Homo sapiens: one gene and its partner. The protein of the gene in region 1 interacts with the protein of each later gene in a pairwise test. Each region holds a gene or a part of one and is shown on either strand. Other genes may lie near its edges. The genes, in order: ODAD2 and NR4A2.

Region 1 (16,704 bases):
GTTTGGTTCATTTAGACTTCCAGTTTTTTTCTTTCTTCTTCAAGCACTTAATATCCATGGAAATTGCCAAATGGTCCATTTGTGCTTAATATCCTCTATAGGAAATTTAATTGATTAAGAGAAATATCCCTCAGAGAATGCACACATTCGAATTTCTGTTCTACGATATCGGATTACAATCTGTTTGTGTTCCTTAAAAACTCGTTTTGCTCCTGCTGCTGTTGCTGCTGCTGTTGTTTTTCAATCCAGTGACAAGACCCAGAGAAGAATTGTTCAAGCCCAAACTCTTGCCAGGTAATAAAGAGATGTGAAAATTAACCACAGAGTAAGTCAAAGGAAGATTTCAATATAGAAAACTAAAAGCCAGTGACCTCACTAAATGCATTTCATGATGCTAGCTCTGAAAGCTAATAGGTTCTGGTGCATTTTGATTGGTGCAAATCTATAATGGAGTGTGTAGGAGGAAATGACTTAAGACCTCGAAGGGCATAGAAATACGGGAACTCTATCAATGAACTAAGTAAGTGGCCTCCAAACTGACGTACACATGAATTTTTTTCAAAGGGTATGTGGGTATAAGATGGTTTACGGGAAATCAATTTCCAAATTCCAGTTCTTTCAAAAAATTTTTTCTAAGAACGTTCCTGTGTGCAAAGCGTCATCCCGGTTTTCTTGTTCTACCTTCCTTTTTACAGTCATCCTCCTTCCACTGTACAAGATTTTGAACTATATTCCAGTCAGTGAAATAAACAAATCATCTCACCATAAACCCTGATTTACTTATGTTCTTATGAATAAATCACATTGTATGGTAAAACTGATTTTCATTGCAAATAGTTTATTCATCATTTCATTATTTGAAAAGGATAATGCCCGTGGCTTTTATCTCTTTAATAATATTACAAAGTTGAAGTGCAAAATACTACTAGTCACCCAAAGAATGCATCCCTTCTCAAAATAAGAAACATTCTCCCTTAGCCATGTTCTCATTTGGTATATGGACACATGATTTACTAGGCATCTGGAAGCCATTCTTTTAAGACGTCTTCAGTGTTTCCTTTGGTGTTATTGGGAGACATCACCCGGATATTATTAATCCTCAGTTTGTTTTTCCAAAATATCAAGTCTCACATTAAATCCTTTATCCTCCATGAGGTTTTCTGGAGTAATCACTTCTTGGCTAGACTACACATTTTCTATATCAAATAACTTTCCCTACATTCCAAGATATTTTGCTGTGTGTTTCGACTTTTAAAAAATCCAGAAAAAGTTCCACTTGACATACAATGAGTTCAAACATTTTTAAAGAGTAAAATATATTCCTATTTATTTTTTAGATAAAAAAGAGAGCTTAGAATAAAACAGTGTTTAAATACAATGATTTATAACAATATTAAATAATATTTTAAATAACTGCATAAAAAAGAAGCAAATTCGTACACTTAGTCATTAATTCTGCTCTTCATCCTAGATATTCTTGCTAAGAGGCTGGAATAGGATAAAGCGACCAAACCACCATGGTAATATAATGGAAATGATGACCAAGATCAGAACATATTTGATAAATGATGAATGATATGATGAAGAAGGGTGCTTTGGCAGATTGAATTGTTGGTCTCAATGATTTCTTCACTCTCTCACAGTGATGTCATGTCTCTACACTCTTGCCATGGCTTCATGGTTGGCAAATAATAGTTCCTCACACTTTGACTTTGGGCTTGACATATGACTTGATTTGGTCAATGGGATGTCAGTGGATATGATGCAATCAGAGATTTGGAATGTCCATGGAAGTGATCCACCATGATAAGAACATGTCACTGGTAGTCACGCCTCTGAATCTAGGTTCCAGAATGAGACCTGTGGAGCAGATTCACAACCTGCAACCAAGCCCAGAAGAAATATAGCCTGAGGCAGAGCCTCTGAGTCAGGCCCAGCCTAGATCAGCCAAACTGCAATTGAAACTCCAAATGTCCTATAGATTCTGGAGTGTGAGCATAAATACACACATGCCACTGAGTTTTGGGGCAGTTTGTTATGCAGTATTGTTGTAGCTGTCTTTGACTCTCACAGAAGCTTCAGCTCCTTTGACGGTCTGTGTTCATCAGGACTGAATCTATTTAAGCCTTTGTGATGATTAGCCCAGCCTGGATAATGGAGAGCAAGCCTTCTACAAAGTGGTTGATGCTGGTTCTTCTTGAGAAGTTGATTTGCTCCTGATTGTTCTTTTCCTGAAAGTCATAGTGATGGACGACAACTCTTACCATTGTCTTCAGCATTGCTCAAACATTTCTACATTTCCAAATTACATGCTTAAACTGCCATTGTTTTCCTTATTTTATTTTGTTTAATTTTAATCTTTTTTTAAGAGACAAGATTTTGCCCTGTTGCCGAGGCTGGAGTGCAGTGGTGCAATCATAGCTCACTGCAGCCTTGAACTCCTGGGCTCAAGCAATCCTCTTGCCTTAGCCTCCCTAAGTGCTGGGATTACAGGAATGTCCCATTGTATCCAGCTCTGATTTTTCTTTTTAAGAGATTATCATTGACTTCTTACTCTGGAAGAAGATGGTATAATTCTGTTCCATCACTCCTTCCCCACTCTACCCACACACTTGCCCTATTCCAAGACTTGCATATTTGATTGAAAAGACTCTTATATGTGAGCACCTATAGATCTTTGCTTTCAGGCTGGTCAGTCTCAGATCTGCCTGCTGATGTATACTGGGTTTCTAGTGCGAGGAAGGTGACCAGGAGAAGGGGTTGAGGGGGCTCTCAGCATTCAGCATGCCCATTGTTTTAGTACAGTGTTCATGGCTGTGCCTGGTGCCCTGGGTTATAAACTTGTCTAATGAGAAAAAGAATACAAATGGGTTTCTGCTACCCTTTGAACAAGACTTTCAAGCAGTTTTCCTGTTTTCAGCCCACCTCTATCCTGGCCGTAAGAGATGATTCCCAAAAGTGTGAACAGAAAATTTACAGAAGACAAAATACTAAAATTAAGAGTACGTTGAAATGCTATAAATTACCAGTGATACAACCAAATAAATTCAAATTAGAGCAAGAATGAGCTATGAAATTCAGAAGACTACTTCAGTGCTGGATAGTTCACGGTGAGAAAAAAAAATATCCAACACTGAAGATAGAGAACAAATTGACGAAAACTCTGAGAAGCAATCTGGTGAAATTCATTAAAAACTTTAGAAGTATTTATGTCCCTTGACCCAATTCAACTTCTAGGATCATATACTTCCAAATAATAATAAATATTTGAGAATAAATATACTCATTTCTGGGTTATTGCTAATAAAAACCAACTAAACTCAATGTCTAGCAATATGAAATTATGACAGATTTGTATGAAAGAATCTTTGTAAATATCAAAATTGTTTATGTCAAACTTGATGATTGGGCAAAGAAAATTTAATTTGCAGTTAACTGGAAAAAGAAAAAGATGCCTGGAAATTCTAAGTCTTCCCAGAGTCTGATTCACAAACATATTTTTGTTGGCTTTTACCCCTTGGAGCATTTAGGTTTCATCTCTCTCTGATCTGCTAAGCTAGTTTAATACTTTTGCTTTCTATTGTTCACATTTTGTTGACATGTTTTGTCTATTTCTTCCTTCCTCCCATTCTCTTTCCCCACTGTCATTTTAGTGGGCTTTTGGGATGTGCACAATAACTGTATTTGACTGGAAGTTTCGTAATGTTGCACGTGGGTTTAAAACACCATTGAGCCCATGACCACTTTCATCATTTCTAGAGGTGTTGACCAAACCGAGTACAGAATATACTTTCCTGGATTTATTTCCTTTTTTTTTTTTAAATAGAGTACTGAAGCTCATAACATCCTTATCCTGTCCCCCAAAATTCAATTTGAGATTCCAGTCATTTTGATCATTTTCTTGCCCAAGTTTCCTAGTCAGAAGGCCAGCCAACTGCATTACATGTAAATACTACATAAGGATTGGAGAGAACACTTTTTCTTCATGAAGTTTCTTCAAGCCAAAATGTTTAAGGAAATTCTACAGCTTTATTTCAGAACCAAAATCATTTTGTTTGATATATATGAAATAACCTATTATACTTGGATATTTGATATATGGCCTAATTTTAATTATATATAAAATTTAAATTTACTCATAGGTTCTACGTTCATTGTCTCTTATACCATCCTAATTTTTGTTACTACAGGAACATAGGCTCATTTTAACATGTTAAAAGATAAAGAGGAAAATAAATTTAAAAATTAACAGTTCTTCCCCATCCATTCACTTCCTAAGGCAATATATATACGCATTATTGATCTGTTGTGTAACCATCCACAGTTTGTACGTATACCTAAGAAAGAGGATGTTAGAATTGTTTCGCTGGTTCAAGATACAATAGACAATTCATTCCACAGTGGGGTACAAGGCTAAGATACAAAACTGTAAAAGCTATAACTGGGAAGTCAATTACCTGACTCACTCACACTGAAGTTATAGAAGGGAAATGAGTGGATTTCCAGGGAGGAGCTCTTTGGAGAGTCATCCAAGGCATTGCCTCTCTACTCACTGCCCTCTTGGCCCCCAACATCAATTCAGAGGGGAAGGGAGAAAAGGGACTTCAAGGGACTACTCAGAGGGCAAAATATATGTCCTGTGTGGTTGGGGGTCGGGGAGGACAGAGTGGACAAGTGTCTGACTCCCAGCTGAGAATTCTTGGGGTTAAGAGACAGGCTGTGTCTGGTGGCTTTGATGGAAAAGAACAAGAGAGCTTCTATAGTGATGGCATCGAGCTGCACTGCTAGAATTTGCTGGGCAAATAATGTGTGAGTACATCCCATGGATCAGATTTAGGCTGTTGGGGTGGGGGAAGGGAAATTCACTGGTTGGGGGAGATGGAGGTGGGATGGCAGCTATAGGACCTCAGCAGACAGTAAACTGCCAGATTCCCAAGACTACAGCCAGAATAGAGAAGCTTGTTCTGGGTTGGAGCAAAACACAAAGGAAAGGACACCAACCAGGCAAGGTTTATGAAGAACCGAGAAAAATACCCACAAGAGGGACAGCCAGCCTCGGCTTTGTTCAGAGAATGCAAAGCTAGCTTATGGCAGGACCAGACAATTAAACAGGTTCCTTGTTCCTTTTTTTTTTCTTTCCCTGTTCTTTTTCACCCAAAGGGTTAGAGTGAACCCCCAGGTAGGAAATGGTGAAGACAAGCTAGAAAGAAGAAAGTGATCACACATTATAAATGTCCTTTGCCCTCAGGCTGACACTTTGTCTGGTCTGGGATGCTTGCCTGATGGGATGACCCAGATCTCTGTTTCTGAGGGGTTTGAGCCCTTAGCTGCCTTGCCTTGATCATGCTGTGGTTACTGTAAGCCATGGAGGAGCAATGAAGTGAATTCTCAGGGTCCCTGGGTTCTAAACATCTTCTTTCCTGATGGTAGCACCCTAGCTCCCATGCAATCATGGCCAATCATGACCTAACGGGTGTAATAACTCCCCCACTCCCCCCCTTTTTTTTTTGGCCTGCTGGTTTACTTGCATGAGGAGCCCAATGTAGCCAGGTGGTAGTAACAGCCTTAAGTTCAATGGAACCCTTAATCTATTCCCTGATGGATGGAGTCTCCCCATGGCAAGTAGAGCTTCTAGTCTGGCAGAGCCCAAGGTTAGTGATAATTGGAAGCTCAAATTCCCTAAGCAGGTAGGTCACTGAGAGCTCTGGTGAGAAGATTCACTCCTTGTTTTGCACACCTAGGAATTCTAACAATGAAGGAAAACAGCACTGCGTATCACATATCCACTGTTAATTCTGAGCATATGCCACATCTTGGAGGATGGAGACCCAGCCCTAAAAAGAGTTCTGCCATACTAGCACCTTACCTGAGCCCTCAATGTGTCATTCTTCCGTGCTATCAGGCTGACTGTCTCTAGGTGACATGGTCCAAGGTAAGACTGGTGGCTGTCACAGTCACGAGCCTATTGTTGTATCTTTCTTTTTGTTTGTTTTATTTTAGATTCAGAGGGTACATGTAAGAGTTTGGTACATGGATACATTGCATGATGCTAAGATTTGGGCTTCTAATAATCCCATTGCCCAAGTAGTAAACACAGTACCTGATAGGTAGTTTTTTAACCCTTTCCCCCTCCCTCCCCATTTTTGAATTGCCAGTGTTTATTGTTCTCATGTTTGTGTCTGTGGTGCCCAATACTTAGCTCTCATTTATAAGTGAGAACATGTGCTATATGGTTTTCTGTTTATGCAATAATTCACTTAGAATAATGGTCTGCAATTGCAAAGAACATGATTTCATTCTTCTTTTTGGCTGTGTAGTATCCCATGTTGTATATGTACCACATTTTCTTTATCCAATCCAACCATCTTTATCCAACTCAGATGGGCATCTGGGTTGATTCCATGTCTTTCATTGTTGCATCTTTGATGTCTCAAATGAGTCTCTTTTTCTGAGGTATACATTGTTGTGGTGAATCTGAGGTAATCATGTGGGTGAATCAGGCTTTTTTTTTTTTTTCCCAAGACAGGGTCTTGCTCTGTTGCCCAGGCTAGAGTGTGGTGGTGCAATCACATCTCACTGTAGCCTTGAACTCCTGGGCTCAAGTAATCTTCTGCATAGCTAGGACTACAGACATGTGCCACCATGCCCAGCTATTTAAACAATGTTTTGTAGAGAAGGGGTCACACTATGTGTCCAGGATTGTCTCAAACTCCTGACTTCAAGCGATCCTCCCATGATGCAGACATTTTGATGGTGGTGCTGGCGGAGGCACTGTGTGCAGAGAAGGCAAACTCACATTTGGAAGACGTGTCAGCCCTAGTAGGGAGGAAGCTTTTTGCCACCTCCAAGGTAGAAGGGATATGATGTAATTGACCTGCTACCAGGCCCCAGTTGGTCTCTCCAGGAATGGTGCCATATTAAAGGTCAGTTTCTGCTGTTGGTGGACTGGAAACTATCAGTGGCATTGGTCAGACTGGTGTCAGCAAGAAGGACCCATGCATAGCCTCCATCCCTGTTGCCTTCTACATCTCTTCTTATATTTGGTCATCCGGTCTCAACACTTTCAGTGAAGGGGCACTTAGGTCTACTCCAAAGTAGTAGATCTTCCCAGTTTCTACTGTTGGCTACTGCCCTAATAGAGCCATGGAGCCTTTTAGGAGGTGTGGCTGAAATGCGAGCTTGATAGTGGGGCCCCATGAGGGTGGGGTGCCATCCTACAGGCTGCAGTATATGCCCCAAATCAACAGCCATTCTATGGGGCTATGACTCCTAAGGGTAAATTGCATGGGTTCCAGAACCAAGAGATGGAATAAGTGGCCAAGTTTACCCATCATGTGGGAAAATTTGTGCTTCCTGTCACCACAGATCTGGGCTCTGCACATTTATATTTTCTTAAGATTTAAAAAATTTTTATTGTAGTAAAAATGTAAAATTTACCATCTTAACCATTCAAGTCTACAGTTCAGTGGGATTAAGTACATTCACATTTTTGCACAACCATCACCACCATCCATTTCCAGAACTTTTTCATCTTCCCAAACTGAAACTCTGTACTTATTAAACAATAACTCCCGACTGCCCCCTCTCCTAGTCCCTGGCAAACACCATTGTACTCCTAGACTACTTTTGGACTCAGTTTCTTCTTTCACTTAATAAAAGAAAAGGAGCACTGCTGGCTAATGGGATCATTCTCTATGTGCAGGCCTTCTTGCATATAAGTGATTGAGTTTATTGTAGAGAAAGGTACTAGAAAATAGAGTTGTAGAAAGAAAACAGGTGGAGACATAAACTGGACAAGGTTTTCATGCTGGGAGTCCTATCCAAAGGCTTCAGCAGTCCTGACGCAGGTCTGTCCAATTCTTTTGCATCAGGAATCTGATCTTGCGAGTCATTTCTTGCTGTAGGACTGCCGGCAGGTTTCATAGCTTTCCTGCTGTCAACAGCGGCATGGCTTCTCATCGTACCCCTGATGGTATCCCCGATGCTTAATGTCCTCAATGAGTCCATCTACAGTGAGGATTCCTTTGAGGGTCCTGTACCCTCCACGGCCCTTCCTGTACCATCATAGTCCTGGCAATGAACTTCAGATGTTTTACCATGACCTTGGATTTAAGTCTACACTCTGCAGGGCCCCATGCACTCAGTATCCAGTGAACCTGAAGCCTATTCTGCACATTTAGAGGTCATGGCTCCTAGAGGAGAATGTTCCACCAAGGGACATAAAACTTTAAGTTATGGTGGCTATTTCATAACTTTGGACTCTTTACGCAAGAGACAAAAAGGCAAGTGAAGGAGTCATGATCCCAATAGAAGAAACTGCCCTGGATCATCAGGAAGAGGGAGGTTGCTGTTGCAAAGTGGGGTAAGGATGTCTTTTCCCAGTTTTGATGGTAAAGGTATAGAGTAGTCACCACCTGAGAAGGGCATGATGCCAGAAACTCAGCAGTGAGGGTCAGGATCACCCCCACCAAGGAAACCATCTAGATCAGCAAAAGTGCTAGTGAAACATGCAGGGAATCTGGAATGGGCAGAAAAGGAGGGCAGAAATGGATACGTTTTGGCTTGGAGACCAACTGCAGAGCCAGGGCTTGCAATTTTGTCTCATCTTTCACTTGTAAATTTCCCCAGGGAAAGCTGACCACCAGGATTCCGGAAGAGCTGCTCCCAGATACCGCTCTCAGAGCTGTATTGCATGATGCTAGTGATCTCAGCTGTGCAAGGGGTGGACAGTAGGGGATGCAGTGGACTGTCAAGATATCTGAACCCATCCCACCTCTCCAAGACCAAAGCACTCCTGCCCTCAGCTGCTGGGGATTATGGGCAGATGATAGCCCTCAAATGAAAGAGTAAGGTTATGCCCTATTCCTGGGGACAGCCTGCACCCAGGGACTGGCTGATAATGATCAGTTGATGAGAAGATCTAAAGGTCCAGCCCCTTTGCCTCAATATGGGAAAACTGCTGGGCCATCCCAGCTTCAGGGCTCTCTGTGGGATGGTTGTGGCTGCATGGCAGTTCAGCTTCTCTCTCGGTCTAATCTCCTTGCCTTCACTCTCCTGAGGGCACTTCTCAATACATTTCTTACATGCCCTTCTCTATCTCAGAGTCTATTTCTCAGGGGAACCTGAGGCCAGGTGTCTTATTAATAGTCTCTTTCTTTCTACTCATGCATTTCTCTAGTTTACTTCCACTGTGTAATCAGAACAGCTTCTTAACAAGAGAAATCGGAGCATGTCACTCCCTGCTAAAAATCTTCCAGTAACTTTCATTTATTCTTGGAAGAATATTTCAATTGTTATCATGGCTTAAATGTTCCACCTCATGCAGTCCTTCCCACCGATTCAGTCTCTTCTCCTTTCTCTCCTTTGCTACTGTGCTTCATGCCAGTGGCTCTCCTTCTAGTCCAGGAATTCTGAGTTGAGTTTAGTAGGCTCCTTTTTTGGCTAGGACTTGAATTGGATAATCGAGTTCTGCCAATGGAGTGCCTGGCACAAAATGGCATCCAAAAAGCATTTATTGAGTAAATGAATGTCTAGGAGATTAGAATCTAAGGAGAAGGAGCCATTTCATTTCCAGGCCGTGGGCCTTGGTCCACAATGCATCACTGAGAAATATCAGAGGGCAAAGGGAGGCAGCTGAGGCTGCACTTCTCTGACTTTTTGTCTTTATCTATGAGAGAGGGTAGAATCTGGTGAATTTGGTTTTTAGGACTTCGTAAGACTTCATGCAATTTTCTCTCATGGGAATTTCTGTTGAAAACTCCTAAAAAATTCCACAGAGAGGCAATTCCGCCCTATAATGAGACTTACCCCCATTACGACAAAATATAAATGACTGTAATTCCCTGCAAACCTCAGGAGGTTTATTTCATCTGTCTTAGTCCTTTCCTGATTGAGGTACTGGATGCTTAAACCAACCTTGCCTCTTACTTTCTCCCTGGTTATGGCCTATAAATTCTTAGTCGGCTTCACTCTGACACAGATGAATGGGCGCTGGAAGCCTGCTGATCACATCTTTACATAATGCTATGTGTGACATTGTGTCCCCCTAAAATCGTATGCTGAAGTCCTAACCTCTAGTGTCTCAGAGTGCAACCGTACTGAACATAGGGTTTCTATAGAAGTAATCAAGTTAAAATGAGTTCATGAGGGTGAGTCCTGATCCAATATGACTGGTGTTCATAAAAAAAAGAGGAAATAAGCCAAGAGGAGTGTCTCACACCTATAATCCCAGCACTCTGGGAGGCTGAGGCAGGCAGATCACTTGAACCCAGGAGTTCAAGACCAGCCTGGGGAACATGGCGAGACCCCATCTCTACAAAAAAAAAAAAAAAAAGCCCACAAAAATTAGCTGAGTATGGTGGTGCATGCCTGTAGTCTCAACTACTTGGGAGGATGAGGCAGGAGGATCACTTGAGTCTGGGAGGTCGAGGCTACAGTGAGCCGTGATTGCACTATTGCACTCTAGCCTAGGTCCTGTCTCAAATTCAGAAATTTGTGTACAGAGACAAGCACACAGGGATAACATCATATGAATGTGAAAACAACCATCTACAAGCTGAGGAGAAAAGCCTGGAATCGATTCATTCCCCATAGCTCTCAGAAGGGATCAATCCTGCCAACACCTTGATCTTGGACTTCTAGCCTCCAGCACTGTGAGATAAGACATTTCTGGTATTTAAGCCGCCCCAGTCTGTGATACCTTGTTACAAAAGCCCTAGCAAATTAATGTGTGCAATCTGTGTCTGAACTCTCTGATACATGAGAGGAACAGATTTGCCCAAGCCAGGGTGGATGGTTTCATAAGAATCCCTGTAGATCGGCAGTCCCCAACATTTTTGGCACCAGGGACCAGTGTCATGGCCAACAATTTTTCCATGGATAGGGTGTGGGGGAGGGGATGGTTTCAGGATGATTCAAGCTCATTACATTTCTCGTGCACTGTATCTCTACTATTATTACATTGTAATATATAATGAAATAGTTATACAGCTCACCATAACGTGGAATCCGTGGGAGCCCTGAGCTTGTTTTCCTGCAACTAGACGGTCTCATCTGGGGGGGATGAGTGACAGGGACAGATCATCAGGCATTAGATTCCCATTAGGAGCTTGTAACCTAGATCCTTCGAATGCACAGTTCACAATAGGGTTCATGCTTCTATGAGAACCTAATGCCACTGCTGATCTGACAGAAGGTGTGGCGTGTGGGTGGGGTCCCTGCTGTAGATGACGTAATGTTGCGGAGGTGGACCAAAAACTATCAAGTTTTTCCCAGGAGCCTGTGGCAGATTTTCTCTAAAGTTTCAGTGGACAGCGCTGCACCATGTGCTTGCACTCTAGCCATGGGCAGGGCTGGTAAAGGCCTCTGGTACAGCAAACCCCGGGTGTGCCCTCAGTGATGAAGGCTCTTTCCAAGATCACGGCTACTTAGAATCCTCAGGCTGGTTCTATTAACCCTAAGAAAATGTGGGCCTTGCCTTTCTGGTGCTTGGTGAAGAGTGTCAGGAAGCAAGGCATCTTTGACTAGGCGATTCATGAATTTAGCTCCTTCTACGTGCCAGTCATCCTTCTAGATCTTAGGAGTACAGACTTGAAGGAGGCAGAAAAGCTCCCTATTTTCATAAAGCTTACCTTGTAGGGGTAGCAGATGGGCAACAAGGCAAAGACAAGTTATGGCCAGGCACAGTGGTTCATGGCTGTAATCCCAGTGCTTTCGGAGGCCATGGCTGGAGGATCACTTGAGCCCAGGAATCAGAGGCTGCAGTGAGCTATGCTTATGATTATGTCACTGCACTCTGCACTCCAGCCTGGGTGACAGAATGAGACCTCGTCTCAAAAAAAAAAAAAAGAAAAAAAAAAAACAAGTCATGATAAATCCTTCAGGGAGTGACTGGGCCCAGGTAGTGTTTCATCACGACAAGGAAAAATTGGAAAGAGGCGACTGGGACTTCTTCAGATTTAAATATTATTAAGTTATTTTTGCTTGGAAAATATCCGGTAAAATAAATTCACATTTTGGCATCAGATTAAGCAACTTGGCATGAATTTGGCAAACAACGACATAGTTGCTCAGATCTTGGTGGGTTCTGGCTTTTTCCAGCTTTGCAAACCAAGGTGAAATGTCCTGAACTTGGAAGATCTCTGGCTGGCATCCACATTGGACCCAGTAATGCTCCCTTATGTCATACAGCTGATTAAAATGTGCAGAGGAACTAAAGTACCCACAGAAGCTTCCTTGCTTCCAGGACTGGGACTACTCCAGGATCCTTCCGAAGGATGCCCTCTGCTCCTCACCAGGTTGTGACCTGCATTACCGCCACAGGTGTGATGCTGTTGTCTCAGACTGTAATCCACCCATTTTTAAAAGGGCTTCTCTGTATACCTATTAGCATAAGCCCCTTTCTCACTGGTTGCAAGTCTAAGCTTCTCTGCAGGTAGTATCTCCTTTAGGTGAAACTATTCCATTCCTAACAACTTTCGCACTTTCAAAAAGAGAAGAAAAGAACCCAAAACAGGCCAGGCATGGTGGCTCATGCCTGTAATCCTAGCACTTTGGGAGGCCGAGGTGGGTGGATCACTTGAGGTCAGGAGTTCAAGACCCACCTGGCCAACATGGTGAAACTTCGTCTCTACTAAAAGTACAAAAATTAGCCGGGCATGGCGGCGCATTCTTGTAATCCCAGCTACTCAGGAAGCTGAGGGGGGAGGATCTCTTGAACCCGGGAGGCAGAGGTTGCGGTGAGCCGAGATGGGAGGCAGAGGTTGCGGTGAGCCGAGATCGTGCCACTGCACTCCAGCCTGGGTGATAGAGCCAGACTTCGTCCCCCACCCTCCAAAAAACCCAAAACAAAGGACAAATATCTATACCTCATATCCCTACGTGTTTGCAGAAAGGTTCTGCTTTGAGCTGAATCCGTATAATATTATGACAGGTGATATCCTAACATCATTCCACATTTGCCTCTTTGGCATCCGGAAAAGAATCCAGTTTTAATTCCTAAACACCCCATCATCCTAAGTGCTCCGGCATTGGTCCTTAAACACCGTGTCCCCCCACCCCAAGATAGTGCATTCTTCCCCATCCCCCCCCACCTCAATATTCCCACTCCTTTATCCCTCACTGGTGTTCCAGTTGGGGCTCTTGCTGGTAGGGTGTCTAGAGGTGGGGTCAAAACCATCTTAATGGACAAAGGTAAAGGCCATTTAAAAAAAGAGATGGGGGACATGTTTTCATTTCACTCCGATCCTCTGCCCTATTGAAGAGCGCTTTCTGCTTTCCCGGTGAGTATCAGAGTATTCTACCATATTTGTTTTTTTGGAGAGAAACATGTAAGCCTCAAATATCCTAGGAGAAGCCCTATGCTATTTGGGGGTACTCAGTGAAGATTTCAGGTACATACAACGCACTTGTCTGGAAGCCTATGGAAAAATGTAAAAAGGGGTTTCTAAGGAATATTTTCTGCTTCCTTTCTGCTCCATTTTAAGTTTTCTGCTAACTTGCCGCCGACCCCGCAACTGCTCACGACCTCTGTCAAAGTCAACCTTTCCCACCGCGTGGAGTGAGTTAGGGTGCACACTCGGGAGTTGCATAAAAGTGTTTGAGAAAGGGAGATGCAAAGTTGAATAAAAGTGTTTCCCGGGAGGGGCCGAGCGGAAAGCAGCAGGTGGCCGGGGCGGGTGGAACCCAGCGCGGGCGCAGAGCGTCTCTGGCGCGGGCATACGGTGCAACGGGTCCGCGGGAATCTTGGATGCGCGGAGGTCCCGAGACCAGGGTAACGGACTGGGCTGCGGTCGCGGCCGGGTGAGGCTGGGAGCGGAAGGCGGCGGCGGCGGCGCCCGGGGGAGGGCACGGGCCCTGTAGGCCTCCCACAAGGGCGCCGGCGTGCGCGGCCGCAGGGCGCGCAGTGTTGACCCGCGTCCTAGCAACAGGCGGGCGCCGACTGCGGGGGGCAGGGTGCTGCAGGTGAGTGCGGCTGGGGGTCTCCACGCTCACCCCCGCAGGGGTTCTGCAGCCGCCCGCGTGGATCGGGAAACAGAGGCGGCTCTCTGGCCCCGCCGCTGCCGCTCTCGCCTGCTCCCCTTTCCCTCCCGGGGACCAAGACCCGCCCCCTTCCCTTCTCTCTCCCAGCCCCATCTCACTCCTTCCTCCCCGCGAGACCCTGCCTCGGCCCTAGGTTGGGGACCGTCTGCTCCTCAGTCCCTGCGCCCCTCTCTGCACTACCTCGGCCCCATCACCTCCCGGATCCGCTCTCCACTTCTCCCGCCGCTTCCCTGCCTCTCCTTCCCCCAGCCCGTCTTTCTCCTCCGCCCTTTGCAGCTCTGCCTCCCGCTCCCAGCGTGGTTTTCGCCGTCCCTTCCCTCCTCGTCCCCTTACCGAATCCATTCCTGGAAACTTAGGGTCTCAGCTCTGACGCCCCCTTCTTGTAACGAGTCTGGTGGGGGCCGTCATCCCACACTAGGCTTAGCTTTGGTTTTACTTAGGGCCCTGTTCATGTCATGTCTAAAAGTTCGATTTTCTGTCGGTCTTACTGAGTAACTTCTGCATTCTCAGAAAGCAGTGTATGCGCGGACTCCCCGTGGATGTTACCAACCACATTTCATAGATCTCAGAGCTGATGGCTGCCTTTCCGTAGCCCCCTAAAGAATTCGGTTGTGCTTCTGTTTAAGTGTTAACGATGTGATTACCGAATGGGTTTCATTTCACTAATGATGCTGGAAGCTTGAAATTGACCTTTAGAAAGAAAAACAATCTGTGGTATCTATTGGATAAAGAGAAAAATGAGTGCTAAGTGATTCCCAGTTTATGTAAACATCCCAGTTTATGTAAACACGTAACCAAAACTTTTTTCCTTTTAATCTTTAAACTTACTTTCTTTACTTCAAAGGTGTGTGCTGTGTATTTACATGGATTCATTTTAACTATGGTTCTTAAGCCAAAAGAGCTTGGCAATGGGCAGAAACCGGGGAGCAACTGGTCTTGATTTTAAAATCTTAGTTTTGAGTTATGCCGACCATTTTTGAACACCATTTATTTATTTATTTATTTTCTAATAACATTGATCTTGCCTTCTGGATTGTCATAGGCCACCCTGAGGTTTTCTTAAACTCACCAACCTTCTTGAATAAAACTTGTGCATTGCTACGGTTCACTAGACTTGGAAATACAATTTGAATAGATTCAAATGTTACATTTCTGTCAAAATTTATCTTGACGAAAATAACGATTTTGCATTTCTTAATTCTGTGTTAAGGGTCCTTCAAGAAGTTACTATATGGTATGTTGACTACCATAGCGTTACATAATCTATTTAATTTCGCATTTTTTCTTTAAAAATGTGCAAGAAGCAATCTTTATAAGATTACCAAAACAAATGTTATACTTAAGATTAAAGACAGACAGAACTTTCACCTAAGCCTTTCTGTATAAGATAAAGCTATTTGCACTTATTTCACACTATTTTACACTGATTTGCACTTATTTTACACAACAATGGGAAATTCAAGAGTCTCACACATACACATCAGAACATGTTTATGTGTTTAAATCTAAAGCATTTCTCATCGGTTAGCAATAGAAACAAAATGCTAGAATACTAAAACAAACACCCAGAACAAATTTGTGCACTAATTTCTGCACTTTATTTCATGACCACTTTGGTATATATGTCTGGATCAGTTGTTCTCCACCCTATCTGATCCAGTACTTGGTTTTTATAGCATATATGTTGTAAGGCTGCTTTGCTATCCTGAAATCAATATCATAGATTATAATCTTACATATTTAATATAGTTTTAAATATTGATAGTGTGCTAACTGTAAAATGAAAGAAAATAATTGTAAGAAAAGATTGGCATGTAAACGCTCAAGTACCACTACACTAGAATATATAGGGAAGTAGTCAGATGTCCAGCCTTACACAGAATGACTGTGAACACAGCAGCCCCAAATGCAGACTGATACAGATGTGCCATTGCAACTTAAATTTCTCAAATAACATTGCCATCAATGGTGTCATTTTCCAAAATGCTGAGCTCTTGGTAAAATTCCATGTAAAACAAAATATGTACAACCTTCTTTTCGTTTATGGTAGCTACAATTCTGGAAAATTCAGGGTGTAATAAAACTGTGACAAAATACTCTGCAATTTTTGCAAAGTGCAGAAAAATTCTAGGCTCAGGTAGTGCTTATCTGAAGTTTTTCACTTACTAGATGCCTGGAGGTTACAGCAGAATTCTTCCTTCTGAGGTACTATCCTGCACAGGATATTTTACATTGTCGGTCCTCAACACTAAAGGCCGATAATGCCCCCTTTCCTATCATGTTGATAACTAGACATCTCTATAATATTTCTATACTCTTTATCAGCAGGAAGTACTGCCCTGTTGCCATCCAGTGATCTCCTGTGATTGAATTTAATAGATAGTTCAAAGATTTAATACAGTACAGAATGTAAAATCTCCAAGTCTAATCTTTGTACTTTAAGCCTTTTTAATAATGATGGGAGTAAAAAGCCAATTTTATTCTATATTTAACCGTATAACCATTCTTCTAATATTCTGGAAGAAAGATTTTATCAATAAGTGCTATACAAAAGAGAAAAGAAACAAGTATAGATTATCTGCCAAAAAAGCATTAAATGTTCATTATGAAGTCAGAACGTGCTTTCTAACTTGGCTCTTATTTAACGTTACAGATTTTGTTACT
Region 2 (16,403 bases), on another chromosome or scaffold:
GGGTTCGCGCCGTGGACGCCCCCGCCCTGCGGGAGGAGGGGCTGGCGCGGATTTTAGGGACTTCCTGGGATGCGGAGATCGGCTCTGAACCATCCCCTTTCTGCTGCCCGGAGCTGGGGAAGCTCGCTGTGGAGCGTCTCGCACGTGGCAGGCAGGCAGAGAACTTGCTGCACCTTCTAGGAAATTGCAATCGATTTGTAATGCACTTTCGCTAATTGGGAGTTCAAAATTAAACTTTAATAAAGCATTCGTGTCGTCTCGTCTAATTGTGAAAGCTTCCATCCGTCCTGGTAGATAGACTCTAAGTCTCAAGTTAATGGCGCTAAGCTAGATTTTCCCCCCAAGTACAATTCCGTCAGCCGTCGTCGGCGCAGCTGGATTTCCGTAAGGTACAGATGTTGCTAATGACAGCTTAAGCACGGATGGGCAGATAGCATACGGAATGCAACATGTTGCCATATGGTTCCTTTAGCCTTTCACCTCCAGGGATATCAATCACATATATTCTGGGAGGAACTTAATGACTCTCTGAACAGCAAAATGAATTACCTGGTACAATTTATATCCCTTGACCTGATACGTTATAACAACAGGAAGATAGCATCTCGCAATTTCTGTGGTATAAATTGAACTACAGAGCTACATTTAAAATTCTACATCTATTTGTAGTTTAAGGGGCCCTGTCATATTCTGGCTGTAAAATCTGTTTCTGTATTGCCCATCTCCTTCCCCCTCCTACCTCTGGAGGAAGCAAAATTTATAAAGTTTAGCAAAACTGGTGTCGGAAATTGCCAGTCAACTGATTAATAGATGAAGTATGGAGAAATGGAAAATATGACTTCCAGAGCTACTTACTTCAACAAGAATTAGCCATCTTTAGGAACACCATACTTTTAAGCGTACAAAATTAAAGAACTCCAGAAAATGTATTTTCTGCTAGTTGTTTCAGTATAGCTCCTAAATCTATTCATTAACTATTTGAAATTCTCCATTTATTTTCAAACTTCAACCATTCCTACACTTTGGAAATTACAGAAGACAGTTCTCAGAAATATGAAATACAGGAAATGTAAGTAGCACCTCCTCAGCGAACCAGTTTCTGTACCCACAACCCCATGCACTCACTATTTATGTAGCTTAATTTGAATCATGTACATGGTGGTACTGGTAGTTTGCTTTTTCCTCCCAACATGTCAGTGACAGCATACTTAAGTTGCTGCTTCTCTCCTAGTGGAGTGATTCTGCAATATTTCACAGGTCTCATTTTTAAATATCCTGGTGACTAATAAAATGTTTTAATTGATTGCCTTTAATTTCAGATTATAAACGTGGTTGTCTTACTGTATCCTTTATTTTCTATTCACTAATACAGATAGATCACACGGGAAGACAATACTTTAAGGGCAAAAAGTAAAATAACTTACTAGAATTTCTAAACTTTATGTTTACTTTTACCTACTAAGGGATATCTGAAAGGTAGAGACATACTTTTAAAACTTTTTGCTTCTGGCACTATGTAAACATTAATTCATGTAAACTAATGACTAGCAGAATGCCTAAGATAGACATGAACAGTCTGAAAAAGTATTTACTTTCAGTCATGTCAAGTTTCGGAAAGTGTTAACATTTTGAAAGTTTGTCTATATATCATGTCCTTTCATAATTATTGTGAAATTATAAGACGATGCTTCTCCTTTTTTTTTTCCTTTGTAGTGGCTGATTTGTTACCTAGTGCTTTAGTTCGATAATTTTGATAATTATTATCAAATAAGATCCTTTGTGTGTGTATATAGGAGAAAATCTTATACAGAACACATTAAGATATACATAAGTTATGGCAATCTTGTCTTCTGGGGCTGTTTTTTAAATCTTTTAATGGCTGAGGTTTTATTTCTCTTTGTAGCACCAGCACTCGATGTGTCTTAAATGTGATCAGTAGTGATGGTGAGCTTGTCAATAATGACTCCATCTCCATGACTTGTGAATAGGCGGTGAGTGTGTCCTTTAATCAGTCACACAGAACTTGCTTTATAAAGCTGTTATTGTCATGAACAGATATTGCAGTCTTGTCAGGCCCAGTGATTATTAAAGTGTTCCTTCTTCAAAAGCCAGGCCGAAAGTCCTGCTGTGCTTCATTTCACAATTGAAGTCCATTAGTAAATAAAATCCCAAGCCGCACGATTTGCTGTTCCTCAAGTTATAGGCTTACATATATTTCATTAATAATCTTGGGCCCTTTTGTAGACATAAGTAGGTATATTTTTGGTATATATATATGGCAACAAAAATAAAATATGTATCTTGCAGCATGACTTTTATTTTAAATGAAGATTTGATGGATGTCCATTGTTACTCTAAATGAGGTGGCTGGCTGCCAAGGGAAACCCTACAGTCAGAAAGTACTAGAATTGTTACTATCTACAGGGAATCACTTTCTATTTTTTGAGTTCTCAACTTCACCTCCTCCTTTCAATAGTGCCCCTCCATATTGCTAATCTGAGAATTAGTCTGAATATGAAAACTTTTGAAAATATGTTTGTGTTGTCCAAGAAAAATTTCACCAGTGTTTCTGGTTGCCTGCTGGTTTTCAGCCTTTATCTTGAGTGGGCATGTTTATTCTAACTGAATGAAGAATGACTATTGAATTAGGTATATTCCCCATGCCAAATAATTTTAACTGTGATGTAATCCTAGCCGCTTTCTTATTTTTACTCCCGAATAAATTTAAAATATTTAAGATTGGCCAGGTGTCTGTTTTTCTCAGGGTAACATGGGACAGCTATGGATAGGCATTAGGCCTCTCATAGAACTCTTCATTCAAGTGAGTGTGGCTGAGAGGAACAACCAGGAAAGAGTATAGTGCCCCATTGCACTTGCCCTGTTGGCTTTTCAAATGCAAAATCCACGTTGTTGCATTTGGAAACTTGTTTCTCTGTTTTATGGTATTTCATTTAAGAATTTTTTTTAACTGCCAGTCTGTAAATATTTAACCAGCCAAGCAGGAAACAGCCTTTTATTCTCGACTGTATACAGCTTTTGTTTTTATCTGGGTTAGCATGGGTGCCATGTAAATACCATATAAAATTTGACTTTGGTTGTCCTTACTTTGAAGATTGACAGGGGTTTCTTTAATTAATCTTGTTTCCTTTCATGTTCTGTATTGAGATATTGAAATACAGTATTTTATACATTTATAGGATTGTGTTTGCATTTATTTAATTTATGTTTCTTTTTTTGAAGCATGTAGCCTTGAATGTTTGTTCTACCCTTTTTTTTTTTTTCACATCATTACTCTGGTGCTGCTTGATGTAACTTGATTAGCTCCCTCCCCAGTCATGATTGGTAATTAAAATAGGCATTAAAATTAGTCACTTAGCAATTTTGCTGTTCAATTGGCAATTAAATTACTTAATTGCAATTAAAGTCCTAATTTTAATTGGCAAAATGATAGATGTAGATTTAAGATAATATGTATAAATACTTTAATAAGTGTCTATATAAGGATTACTTAATTACTCAACTTCAAGTTTATGCTGTTAACTTTAGAACTTTTAAGTGAGCAATGAAATTTATATTACATCTATTCAAAGGATATGGTAATTAGATTTATTACTTATCACTATAAGGGTCCTTGCTTTAAGTTACTTTTGTAGTGTTAAAATTGTAGGCTTGATAATTGCAGAATTCTGATGAGAAAAAGGGCATATATGTCTCTGTTGCAATATTATCAATACCTTCATTTTTAAAATTAAATTGAGACATTCCATCCACCAATTAGTCTGAGGAAAAAATCAAAAGTGGTTATTTTATCATTAAAGATAGAACAAAAACTAGCCAGCTTGTGATTTACATATAAAAACTTGCAAAATGTATGTATTTTATCTAAATTTAAATAAATGCTATCTAATACTGGTAGTGTTATAATGCTATTAACTACTTTTAGAATTTGCAGATATTTGATGTTTTCTTAGCATGTAGCAACTTATTTTCATAATCTTTAAACTGTCTTTTAGGACTTTGTACATTTTAGTGATGCCTATGTTTACTAAAATTAGCAATGAAATCTAAAACCAAAGTTATTCTTCTTTGCCTAATAAAAAATAGTTCTTAAATAAGAAAATATTAAGTGGTTAATTTAAAAGCAAGTATTTAGGAGATGGTTACTGGGTGTCAAGTATTAACAAAAAATGAAGGATTTTTATTATGCAAAATACTTTTTGAGTGGCATGAGGTTTTACCATATGTTCAGTTTTATAATTTCAATTTACAAGAAGATGCTTCCAGAAAAAAGAATGCTGTTTTTTTTCTGCACATCTTTACACATTTCTAGTACTGAGTTCTGTATCAAAGAAAGAAATAATTTTAAAAGTATTTGTGTTAAGTGGTTTTTGGTAAAAATCGGCTGAGAAATACTGAATAAAAGCTACAACTATCCAAAATGTGAATATTAACAAAGCAATTGACTTGTTCTTTAACCATCCTATGAGAAAGGAACAAACAATTTGGTCAATTACTATCCTGTCAATGCAAATGAAATGGCAAAAGCAAAACAATAAAAACACTTTCAGAAGTAAAAACTAATTTTGTATTTTCAGAAACAGATTTTTTTCAAAGTGAAAATTTATTTCTTGTATCAGTAATGTGACTTACTGCCCAATGGCAACAAATGCTGTGAATGAGTTTGTCCAAATGTAATTTAAAATATATATCTTGTAATGCTAAAAATAGGTTCTACAAAGTAATTTTATTATGAAAAATCTTAAAGTTGCCTCAACTCGTAAAGCATAACAGGTATGTCTGTTTCACTATATCTGCATTGTAAGGTCTATTCTGAATTCATTTGGGAAGAATGGTGAAATAAATCCCTAAAGGCCTCTTTCCTATGCATTAAAATAGAAAATCCTATGGGATTACATTCATGTTTGCTTTCTAAATTATGCCAAAAGCTCAATTTTATTAAGTATAATCTGCCTAGCCATGCATAAAATAAACTACTTTGGTTTAGATGTGAGTATATGTATTATTTATGTTGATTTTTAATGAAAATATGTTTACATGTACCAATATGTTCTGCCTAATATTGGTTAATGTCATAAAAGATAATATAGTAACATTACTTTCCTAAATGTTTTTCTGTGGTCATCCAATAGTGTTTCTTAATAGTAATGCTTTTTAATTTATTTTAGTTGGTTTCAAAAGAGGATAGGTGCAATTTTTACTCCCACTCATTTTAAAAACTGTTAAGAAAATAGACCTTCATTGTGGGGTAACTTTACACATTTATACATGGCAATAGTTTAAAGTTATATCGGCTGCGGGGGCCTGAAAAAGCCATTATTGTCATTTTAATTGAGTTATAAAATACTTTATTTGAACTATTTATGTTCAAGAATCTTGAAGGGTTACAGTCATATAAATGCAGAATTTCAGTTTCTTTTAGCCTAAAGCATCGTTTTAACATTTTCTGAAAGGTTGTTCAATTCTACATTTTGATTCCATATGTGTAATTAAATCTCTATGCACAAAAGCATTCTCTTATGTACTAGCAAATATACCCACAGGAATCTCCTTCTAAACTATAATTTATTTAACATGTAATCATAGGATTTTAAAACATGCTTTCATTTTTCCAAACTGTATGCCAATTTGAACTTCTTGGTGATAAAATGAGAGATTTTATTACCAGTTTGATTTTTTCCTTCTGTGACCTAACAGTGAGTTAAGCATGAGCAGGAGGAAATAAAGAAAATCTTTTGTGAACCTAATCCCATGTGTTAAAACTGTTTCCCTTTTGGAGAAAATAGAAGAGAATCAAAGATTTTTAGTTATTTATGAATTCCAGCACAATATGAATATTTGGGCCTGCAGCATTCTCTTTGGTTTAGCTTAGGTAGTAAATAGCTTGTGTGTGTGTGTGTGTGTGTGTGTGTGTGTGTGTGTGTGTGTGTGTGTGAGTGATTCTCTTGAACGTTGTGGAGTCAGGCCCCCTACTGACTGGATCAGTCAATTACACACACATTGGCGGTGCTACTGAGACATCGTCCCATCAGAATCTGGTGAGGAAAACTAGTCTGGGGTTTTGAGCGTGGCCTTTTTTTTTTTTTTAAACACTTCTGATCTATATGCTGAATCCTTTCCAACCCATCTCATCCGGGCCTTACAGAAACCCTAGCCTAAGAAGTAGCTTATTCAAAATTGGTTTAAACGAGTTTAACAGTCTTACATCCGGCGTGTCTTCCTAAGAAACAGTAAAAGCTTCCCAGAAACCAGAATAGGACTTTGAAGAGGAGAGAACTCTTACACAGATGATGGAATAGATGAGAAAGGTCTCCCCTTTCTCTCATTTTAATTTATATTTAATTTTATATTTAATTATATTCCCAGTTAATAATAATTGTTATAATAAGCTGCTGTGAAAACGACCCTTCATTCTTGGTTGCATTAAGACTTGGACAAAGGCTGTTATCAGGAAGCCGCACTCGACAGGTTGTTATTAAAGAATAAGGCATCATATTACAATGTTTGGCTTCCTTGGAGCTCACTTTAAGAACTCCAGGACACTTTTCAGCTCTCTGGGGAGGCATTTTCAAATTGTCCCAGGCTCAACCCAACCTAAACTGAATGTGTTTTTAATGGCAATGAGGGAGGGGGAAGCGTGCAGAGTGAATGTATCTACTTAGACGGGAGTATGTGTATGGAGGCTGGTGGTTACAACCTTCAAGTTCTCCCGGCCCCCGTTTTCCTAGGACTATATTAAAAAATAATAACTGCCACCCCGGCGTGCCTGTGCTTGAGTTTCCGACTGCCTGAAAATAGCGGCCGGGAGCCTGGCCCACCGCGGGGATCAAGGAAAGCTTCCCGTGGCCGCGCCCTGCTCCCTCGCGGAAGGGGAAGGGAACCCGGGAGGGCGCCTCTGAGCTGGAGTTGCTGCTATTTTGGGCCCAGCCTGGCCGGTGCGTCAATGCCTGCGCCCCTGCGTCACCGCCACCCCCACCCCCTTCCTTCTCCCCAGCTCTCCAAACTCTCACTTTTTCCCTTTCGTTCGCATGGAATCGCTTCTGCCCACGGGGCGCTGACGCTACCGAGCTCATGCTAATATGCTATTCTTCGCCCTCCCCTCCTCATCCCCCTACTCACACACCCTCACCCGCCACCACAACCCGCCCCCCCCACCCACTTCCTGGTTTTATTTTTTTTCTCGCGCCCGCTAGGGCATCGCCGAGCAGCGGCGGCGGCGGCAGCAGCAGCGGCAGCCGCAACATCTGGGGGAAACTTAAGGTGGTCACGTAGGTTTCCCCGAGGCTGCGGCGCAAAAGAGCCCGCGGCTTCCTGGGGCAGCCGCAGGGCATCTGATGGCAACGCCTCCCCAGCCGCCGGCGAGCTGGGGGCAGCAGGGAGTAGGCAAAGGCGGGGCTGCAGATTAGGGTTGAGCAGCCCGGGATCCCGAATAGTTCCACGGAGCCATCGGCCGGTACTGAGAACACGAGTAGGGGGGCAAGTTGCAAAAGGGTCCCGGCTGCCTGGAAACGAGCCACACCGAGAAAGGAGGGGCGGCTGGGACGCTCTGCGCGAGTAGAAAAGCGGGGGCGGCTCCGAACTCTCCCTCCCAAGGCCCAGCCGCTGGAAGCCCCGCGGGAGAAGCCCTAGGAAGCCCTCCCAGCTCCGGCCGGGAGACGGGGAGGGGGCTTGCCCTCCGGAGCTGCGGCGTTTCCTTTGCTAGAAAGCTCCCTGCGCTCTCGGCGTGGCTAGGGGAAATGACTTGCAAAGCAGAAGCGGCGGCGACTTGGACGGCCGCGGGGGTGGGACACGCTCCCAGAGCCAGCTCGGGCCCCTCTCCTGGCTGGGCTGTAGGCTCACACCTTACGCTTTGCGGAGACGCTGCCCCCAATCCCCACCCGCTTCGCTTTTCTTGTCCAGTCTTTCTGGGCTCTAAGATTGAGGCTGTGATAGACCTTGTGTTTCAAACGAAGATCGATTTATTCCCTTAAAACTCGTGGAAGGGGTACGAGTTGGTGGGCACAGAGGAGTATCGAAAGTATTAGAGTTTGCAGAAGGTGGGAATCAGAGTACCTTTCTGCAGAAGGCGCACCTGTTGCCTGCTGCTCGGCTGCATTGTCTGCGAAAGGAAAAGGGGCGACGCTTCACTCTGACTTTTGGGGTTTCTAAAGAGCTGGGTCACGGTCACTGTCTACCCTCTCCCCTTCCTCTCCCCCCCCCCCGCAAGCACCACGTCCTCCATCGAACGTGGGCACTGCATGGAAATAAGGAAACATAGAAAAATAAGCCCTACCCCCACTCCCATTCCCTTTCAGATGGGAGTGTGGGGGGTGGGGGTGGGGTAGAGAGAGTGAGAGAGAGAGATAATTAGAATGAATATATGCCAGAAGAGGAGGAGGCCTGGGACAGGAAAAGGGAGTAAAAGGGGATGAACCGGGTAGGGAAATCCCACCCGAACTGCGTGAGCCCTCTGAGCGTCTCGTGTCATGGGACATCTGTACGCTCTTCCGCTAAGGGGGTGACGAAGGTGGGTGGGAGAGGTTAGGGCGCTGCAAGGCACATCCCATTCCGTGCGGCTCCAGGTGCGTACTACCTGGCCACGCCGGCCTTGCCTTCCGCCGGTGCTTTTGTTGCACCCTCCCCACATGTGAGCGGCCGAGCCGCTGCGCGGGCGCAGGGGCTTCGGGGAAAGTGAAGTGTCGCGACGCTGCGGGCTGCGCAGACCTGGGAGAGGTCACACCTCTTTCGGAAAAAAAAAAAGAAAAGAAAAAAAACACCAAAAACCACCCAAGCTGGCTACCAAGGTGAACGCAGAGCGGTTCCCACCTTAAAATCGGCCCTGCTCGTGACGTCAGGTCGGAAATATACCAAAGCGAGCGCGGGCCAGGAGTCCAGGGAGCGCGGCAGCGCGGCGATTGGGCGGCGGGCCGCTGACGCGCGCTGACGCGCGGAGACTTTAGGTGCATGTTGGCAGCGGCAGCGCAAGCCACATAAACAAAGGCACATTGGCGGCCAGGGCCAGTCCGCCCGGCGGCTCGCGCACGGCTCCGCGGTCCCTTTTGCCTGTCCAGCCGGCCGCCTGTCCCTGCTCCCTCCCTCCGTGAGGTGTCCGGGTTCCCTTCGCCCAGCTCTCCCACCCCTACCCGACCCCGGCGCCCGGGCTCCCAGAGGGAACTGCACTTCGGCAGAGTTGAATGAATGAAGACAGACGCGGAGAACTCCTAAGTGAGTAGATGCAGCCCATGCAGTTCGCCTTCTTTTATGCTTTTTCCTTCTTTTGCACGTCTCTTCTTTCCACTTGTGTGGGACAGGTTCTCTGGAAGTGGGAGCCAGAGGCTTCTAGTGAGAGTGGGACCGAAGGATGGGGAGTGCGTGCGCGCAGTTACCGGGGGGCATTTGTTCGAACTCCGGCTTTGGCACTAGTGGGGAGTTGGCTCTCGACAGAGGTTTCCAGGCTCCTCATTGGTGGACGTGGAAGGGAGACTCCACAGTTTGGGAGCTGAGGACTAGCCCGCGGAAATGTGCGCAAAGTTTGCTGTTAGTGAGGAATTGATTGTGGCCTGTGAACACGGAGACTCCAAGTCCTATGTATACGAGGGAAGCTGCCCACAAACTGACAGGGAGAGGAAGTTCTTCAGTTTATGCGTTGCTTGGGAACTGTGTCTCCGCGGCTGGCCAGCGCGCGATGTTTCCCGGGTATTGTTGAGTAAGGGTGGTGTTGGTAGCGTGTCCTGTTACTAAGTTGCCTGAAATTTCTGGTTTTGACATATGCTGTCCTTGGGTTTGCGAATGTATCAGAGCGAGAATATGAATATGTAAAGAGTACAGTTATGAAACTGTGGAGCTACCAGGGGGTTAATATCCAACACAGGAATATCTCTAAGGGCTGTGGGGTTCGAGTCTCCTTTCTGCTTTTTCTGGGTAATCTTCCCCCCACCCCCACCACCACTATGAAGCAAGATTGTGGGGGAGGGGAAAGAATAAAAAGAGAGGATACTGGCTTTCTTTTTTCATTAGTAATAAGATTGTCTGTGCTCTAGAATGTCTTCCAAGTGGGAACATCTGAAAATTGCTAGGACACAAGAATGCCTTGTTCCAGAAAGGCAGATTGTGGAAGGCATTATGGGGAAGGTGTTCATCTTGCTGTGCTGGGAAACACTTCTAATATTGGTGCCAATACCATATAAGCAGTATGTCCCCCCTCTGCAATTGACCTAAGAAGCTCCTGGAAAAGTAGATCCCCTCTTCCCACCTTGTGACCATTAAGCCTTGTGACCATTAAAGATGCTGAAAGACAAGTTTTCTGGAAAAGTGAACATCAATTTATCTGTAGCTCCAATCCCAGTGCTCTGTCAAAAGCACTTTAGAAGTGCGGATGCTTCCACTCAACTTGCCTTCTCAGTCAAGGCCTTTCTAACATTTTGTAAGGGGGAAGATTGTTTTCTCATTTTATATTCTTGACTTCTACTTTCTTCCCCTCTACCAAAAGAAAAGGCAATTTCACCACAAGAAAAAAAAATGCAAGAGAAGGTTCCAATGCTGTATTTTCATACTCTAGTCTTCATACTCAGGTCCTGAATTAACCTAAGATGGAAATGACCTCTCCACCTACACTGTAGCAAAGGGGCCAGTTCATTACATCATAAATGTTAAATGAGTTCATGGACTAGCTTTCCTCTTGCAGGATCTTCTCTCTGCAAGGATTTACACAGTGCAATGGGTGGTATTTTCTGTTGTTTCAAGTCATTTCTTTTATACATTCATTTTAAGTGCTATGTTTGGTAAAGGCTTCCCACTCATTTCCAATGAGACAAACAGGGAAGGCATGGAAGGGCCTGCCTGGTGAGTCTACATATGCCCAGCTGAATCTCTGTCGGGAAGAAACCCTGAAGCTTCCTGTGTCTGTATTTCAGGGAGGAGATTGGACAGGCTGGACTCCCCATTGCTTTTCTAAAAATCTTGGAAACTTTGTCCTTCATTGAATTACGACACTGTCCACCTTTAATTTCCTCGAAAACGCCTGTAACTCGGCTGAAGGTTAGTGCAACTTCATTTCTTTCCTTTACTCTCCAGAGCTCCCCAAACATCAAGAAACAGGACAAGGCAAACCCTGTAACTTAAGGTTTGCCCGACCCATCGCCTTCGGGAACAACTTTCTCATTGTGAAATTCAACTTCATTTCTAGATGGTCATTTCTAGAAAGAGACTGCTGAATCTGAGCTTCAGAGAAGAGGCTCATCTGAGTGGGATGAGTGGGGGGGTATGAGGGAGATGTTTGGAAATACCCAGGAGTGTAGACCCTCAGTAGCTTTTTAGCTCTGGGTCTTTATTTGGTTAGTCTTTCCACGCCCTAAACTGTTGTTCTGCAGCATTCTCTCTCTCCTGCCTTTCCTCTCGCGCCCCTACATGCTCTCTGACTGCCGCGGGCTGCCGGTGTAGCTCCAGGTGTACCCGAGCCCGGGAGAAAGTGTTCAGTTGACCAGGCTGAGTGTGTTATCACCCTGTTTCATTTCCAGCCATGCCTTGTGTTCAGGCGCAGTATGGGTCCTCGCCTCAAGGAGCCAGCCCCGCTTCTCAGAGCTACAGTTACCACTCTTCGGGAGAATACAGCTCCGATTTCTTAACTCCAGAGTTTGTCAAGTTTAGCATGGACCTCACCAACACTGAAATCACTGCCACCACTTCTCTCCCCAGCTTCAGTACCTTTATGGACAACTACAGCACAGGCTACGACGTCAAGCCACCTTGCTTGTACCAAATGCCCCTGTCCGGACAGCAGTCCTCCATTAAGGTAGAAGACATTCAGATGCACAACTACCAGCAACACAGCCACCTGCCCCCCCAGTCTGAGGAGATGATGCCGCACTCCGGGTCGGTTTACTACAAGCCCTCCTCGCCCCCGACGCCCACCACCCCGGGCTTCCAGGTGCAGCACAGCCCCATGTGGGACGACCCGGGATCTCTCCACAACTTCCACCAGAACTACGTGGCCACTACGCACATGATCGAGCAGAGGAAAACGCCAGTCTCCCGCCTCTCCCTCTTCTCCTTTAAGCAATCGCCCCCTGGCACCCCGGTGTCTAGTTGCCAGATGCGCTTCGACGGGCCCCTGCACGTCCCCATGAACCCGGAGCCCGCCGGCAGCCACCACGTGGTGGACGGGCAGACCTTCGCTGTGCCCAACCCCATTCGCAAGCCCGCGTCCATGGGCTTCCCGGGCCTGCAGATCGGCCACGCGTCTCAGCTGCTCGACACGCAGGTGCCCTCACCGCCGTCGCGGGGCTCCCCCTCCAACGAGGGGCTGTGCGCTGTGTGTGGGGACAACGCGGCCTGCCAACACTACGGCGTGCGCACCTGTGAGGGCTGCAAAGGCTTCTTTAAGGTGAGCAATGGCGGGAGCGGAGTAGGCAGGTAGGGAGCCCCTAGTGCCCGGGACCTCGGAGTGTGCCCTCTGCCTTGGTGCCAGTAGCCCAGCCCCAGCTCTCCCGGGACTGCCCAGCTCTCCGGGGTCCGCCGAAGCTGCCCTGCAGGAGACCATGGGCTGCGGCGGGGACTTCCGGGTGTCTGAGAAAGGGAAGCAGAAAGACTGGGAGGCCAGGGTCGCATCCCCCTCGCATTCAGCCGACCCGGCTGGCCCCCGCCCGAAGTTGCTGGAGCCGGAGTTGGAAGAGGGTCATTTGCATGTGCTAGGAGCTGTCTTCCCTGTTCAGAATGAAATTGGTTAGGACAGAGAACCGTGTCTGAGCTAACCAAGTGGAACAGAATTCCCTATGGTCAAATTAAGTGATCTCTTTATTTCGCCATCCTGATTGAATAATCTTATCATTTTAAATAGAGAAGGTCTCCAAGGAATGTAAATAATATGAATGCCCACGGATTTGTATTTACTGAGCGTCTCCTTCTCCTTCTCTTGGCATATAAAACACAGCAAGGAGCGGCAAGGTTAGCTCAAATGTTAACGCTATCAATTTTCTTCTGTTAAATGCCCTGGGGGAGGAAAAAAGAAAAGAAAGAAAGAAAAGGAAGAGAAAAAAATAAAATGGAATTGTGTGTATGTGTTTGTTTGTGGGGAGGAATCGTAGACCCCAGTCACATAACAGAAATTTTCTCCGAGTTGCCTGATTTTCAAAAGAAGAAAAAAAATGTTGGTCTATATTGTCTCCTTTTGCAGCGCACAGTGCAAAAAAATGCAAAATACGTGTGTTTAGCAAATAAAAACTGCCCAGTGGACAAGCGTCGCCGGAATCGCTGTCAGTACTGCCGATTTCAGAAGTGCCTGGCTGTTGGGATGGTCAAAGAAGGTAGGCTGAGGGGAGCTGCCGACCCTCCAGTTTGCGCCTTTAGGAAACCACTGCTCATACTCCAGCATCACGTTCCACTTCCCGGTGCTGGGGATCTCCGACTCCCCCTCAGTATGGCCTCCAGGACCCTGCAGCTGCCTGCTTGCCCGGCCTTCCCTAGAGAAAGCCGCCAGGCCCTTCTCTCCTTTAACTATACGACCCATTTGGAGGAAGACATAAAATAACCCCGCATTTTTTAATGCTTCTAGTCAGTGAAGGCTTTACAAGCACTGGGGCCCTCAGCCGCTCAGCCTGGTGCCCCGCGGCTGCGGCCTTCCCCGGGGAGGGACCGAGGCAGCAGCTGGGCCTGGGCTCGGAAAAGCGGCGCTAACAGGGCTCTTCCTTTGCAGTGGTTCGCACAGACAGTTTAAAAGGCCGGAGAGGTCGTTTGCCCTCGAAACCGAAGAGCCCACAGGAGCCCTCTCCCCCTTCGCCCCCGGTGAGTCTGATCAGTGCCCTCGTCAGGGCCCATGTCGACTCCAACCCGGCTATGACCAGCCTGGACTATTCCAGGGTAAGAAGCTGGCGGGGGGGATATCATGTGGACAAACCGACAGATGGGCAGGACCCCTCCCCACATCCGTCATTAACTCTCAGATTCAACGGGGGTAAAGAAGGCAAGCAAGGCTGTATATGCCTCGCAGCTCTGGCCAGGGCCTCAAGATTCAGATCTTCAGACAATCCATGTAGCTGGGGGCATAGACATGAGGACAGGATGGAGGAAGGAGGAGAGGGACACGCCACAGGGTTTGAAGCTGTGTGAATTCCCACTACCCCACTACCCCATCGCCCCTCCTCTTCCATATACACCAGTGCCTCTACCATGAAATCCAGGGGCTGTGCAAACTCTCCCCCTTCCCAATCTACTTTATTCCCAGTCCTCCATAGAGATAGATGCTTTAATCCTCATCCTTCCTGGCACTGTGCTGGGGAAGGATGTGGGGGCCTGTCTGGGGGTCAGGGAAGGGAAGGAGAGGGTGTAAAGAATGCCAGTGGGGTGGGGGATCAAGTGGTCAGATCCTTTTTACTCCAGCTGTGAAAAATATGCGGGCTTTAATTGGAGGAAGTATGTTGAGCAAACCTGGTAGGGACTGCAATTTTATTAAGATTTGCAAAAGGGCGTCTCAGCTCGAGGCCCACTCTGGGACTAGCATGAATACTAACATGTCAATTGTTTTGTGGAGATAAGAGTGAACGTTTCCCAGGGCTGGATGGCACTGTATTTAGTCTGTATGGAAATGGCAATTTACATATTTAAAGCAGCGACCTCGTAGCACCATCCCTAATTGAATTAATTGCCCCGGAACATCTAATTTCCTTACTGGTCAGAGAGAGGTTTAATTGTTATAAAAACCTGGCTCCCCTATTAGAAACGGGGTTAGCAATTTCACGGGTTATATATTTTAGAGAACCTCATTAAGTGCTTTTTAAAATGAAATTCCAGTTCCAGGCGAACCCTGACTATCAAATGAGTGGAGATGACACCCAGCATATCCAGCAATTCTATGATCTCCTGACTGGCTCCATGGAGATCATCCGGGGCTGGGCAGAGAAGATCCCTGGCTTCGCAGACCTGCCCAAAGCCGACCAAGACCTGCTTTTTGAATCAGCTTTCTTAGAACTGTTTGTCCTTCGATTAGCATACAGGTAATAAGGGAGGGAGGGAGACAATCCAGGGAGGCTGTGAGAGAAATCAAGAAAGGAAAAGAAAGGGAGGAAGGGAAACCAGAGGGTGGGGTAGAGAAAAAGACAGAATAGGAAATGGAAGTCGGAGAAAGGAAGAAAAAGAAAGAAAACAAAAAAAGACGAGAAGAAGCGAGCCCAGAAGCCTTGGATGAATGGAATGGAGGTGGGATAGGGGGCGTTCTTGATTGTTATGAAATTAAACCCTTTCAAGGTCCACTGGTCTACATTTTATTAACTCTTCAGTAATTAGGTGACTCTTAAATCCCTCATTTATTGCTCTTCAAGTAATTAGTTGTTTAGCTTTTCTCTCTCTCTTTTTCTCCCCTCTCTCTCTTTGGTATTAATTGCAGGTCCAACCCAGTGGAGGGTAAACTCATCTTTTGCAATGGGGTGGTCTTGCACAGGTTGCAATGCGTTCGTGGCTTTGGGGAATGGATTGATTCCATTGTTGAATTCTCCTCCAACTTGCAGAATATGAACATCGACATTTCTGCCTTCTCCTGCATTGCTGCCCTGGCTATGGTCACAGGTCAGTACTGCAGGCGCAGGGCGCTTCCCCTCCAGAACTGCCTAGCAGGATTTGTCCTGAGTTTCCCTTGTCACAGATTCTCCTTGGTTTTGCCAACTAGCTAACTGTCTTGTACATTCTTCTTTTGTTTCTGATTATGTTTTCTGCAGAGAGACACGGGCTCAAGGAACCCAAGAGAGTGGAAGAACTGCAAAACAAGATTGTAAATTGTCTCAAAGACCACGTGACTTTCAACAATGGGGGGTTGAACCGCCCCAATTATTTGTCCAAACTGTTGGGGAAGCTCCCAGAACTTCGTACCCTTTGCACACAGGGGCTACAGCGCATTTTCTACCTGAAATTGGAAGACTTGGTGCCACCGCCAGCAATAATTGACAAACTTTTCCTGGACACTTTACCTTTCTAAGACCTCCTCCCAAGCACTTCAAAGGAACTGGAATGATAATGGAAACTGTCAAGAGGGGGCAAGTCACATGGGCAGAGATAGCCGTGTGAGCAGTCTCAGCTCAAGCTGCCCCCCATTTCTGTAACCCTCCTAGCCCCCTTGATCCCTAAAGAAAACAAACAAACAAACAAAAACTGTTGCTATTTCCTAACCTGCAGGCAGAACCTGAAAGGGCATTTTGGCTCCGGGGCATCCTGGATTTAGAACATGGACTACACACAATACAGTGGTATAAACTTTTTATTCTCAGTTTAAAAATCAGTTTGTTGTTCAGAAGAAAGATTGCTATAATGTATAATGGGAAATGTTTGGCCATGCTTGGTTGTTGCAGTTCAGACAAATGTAACACACACACACATACACACACACACACACACACAGAGACACATCTTAAGGGGACCCACAA

The links.
Region 2: the proteins of ODAD2 (region 1) and NR4A2 interact in binary tests that used the Homo sapiens proteins (3 or more experiments, as listed by UniProt).

The regions. Positions count from the first base shown.
Region 1 is NC_000010.11:27,996,061-28,012,764, reverse strand, and holds the start of ODAD2 (outer dynein arm-docking complex subunit 2), read left to right. Parts: upstream 1-13,685; 5' UTR 13,686-13,771; intron 13,772-13,867; exon of another isoform or gene 13,868-13,962; intron 13,963-14,064; exon of another isoform or gene 14,065-15,274; intron 15,275-16,704.
Region 2 is NC_000002.12:156,325,299-156,341,701, reverse strand, and holds the start of NR4A2 (nuclear receptor subfamily 4 group A member 2), read left to right. Parts: upstream 1-8,980; 5' UTR 8,981-9,191; coding exon of another isoform or gene 9,192-9,222; exon of another isoform or gene 9,223-10,910; 5' UTR 10,911-11,034; exon of another isoform or gene 11,035-11,513; coding exon of another isoform or gene 11,514-11,515; coding exon 11,516-12,379; intron 12,380-13,168; coding exon 13,169-13,298; intron 13,299-13,687; coding exon 13,688-13,851; intron 13,852-14,781; coding exon 14,782-14,984; intron 14,985-15,373; coding exon 15,374-15,552; exon of another isoform or gene 15,553-15,555; intron 15,556-15,701; coding exon 15,702-15,958; 3' UTR 15,959-16,403. UniProt on the Homo sapiens protein: Transcriptional regulator which is important for the differentiation and maintenance of meso-diencephalic dopaminergic (mdDA) neurons during development.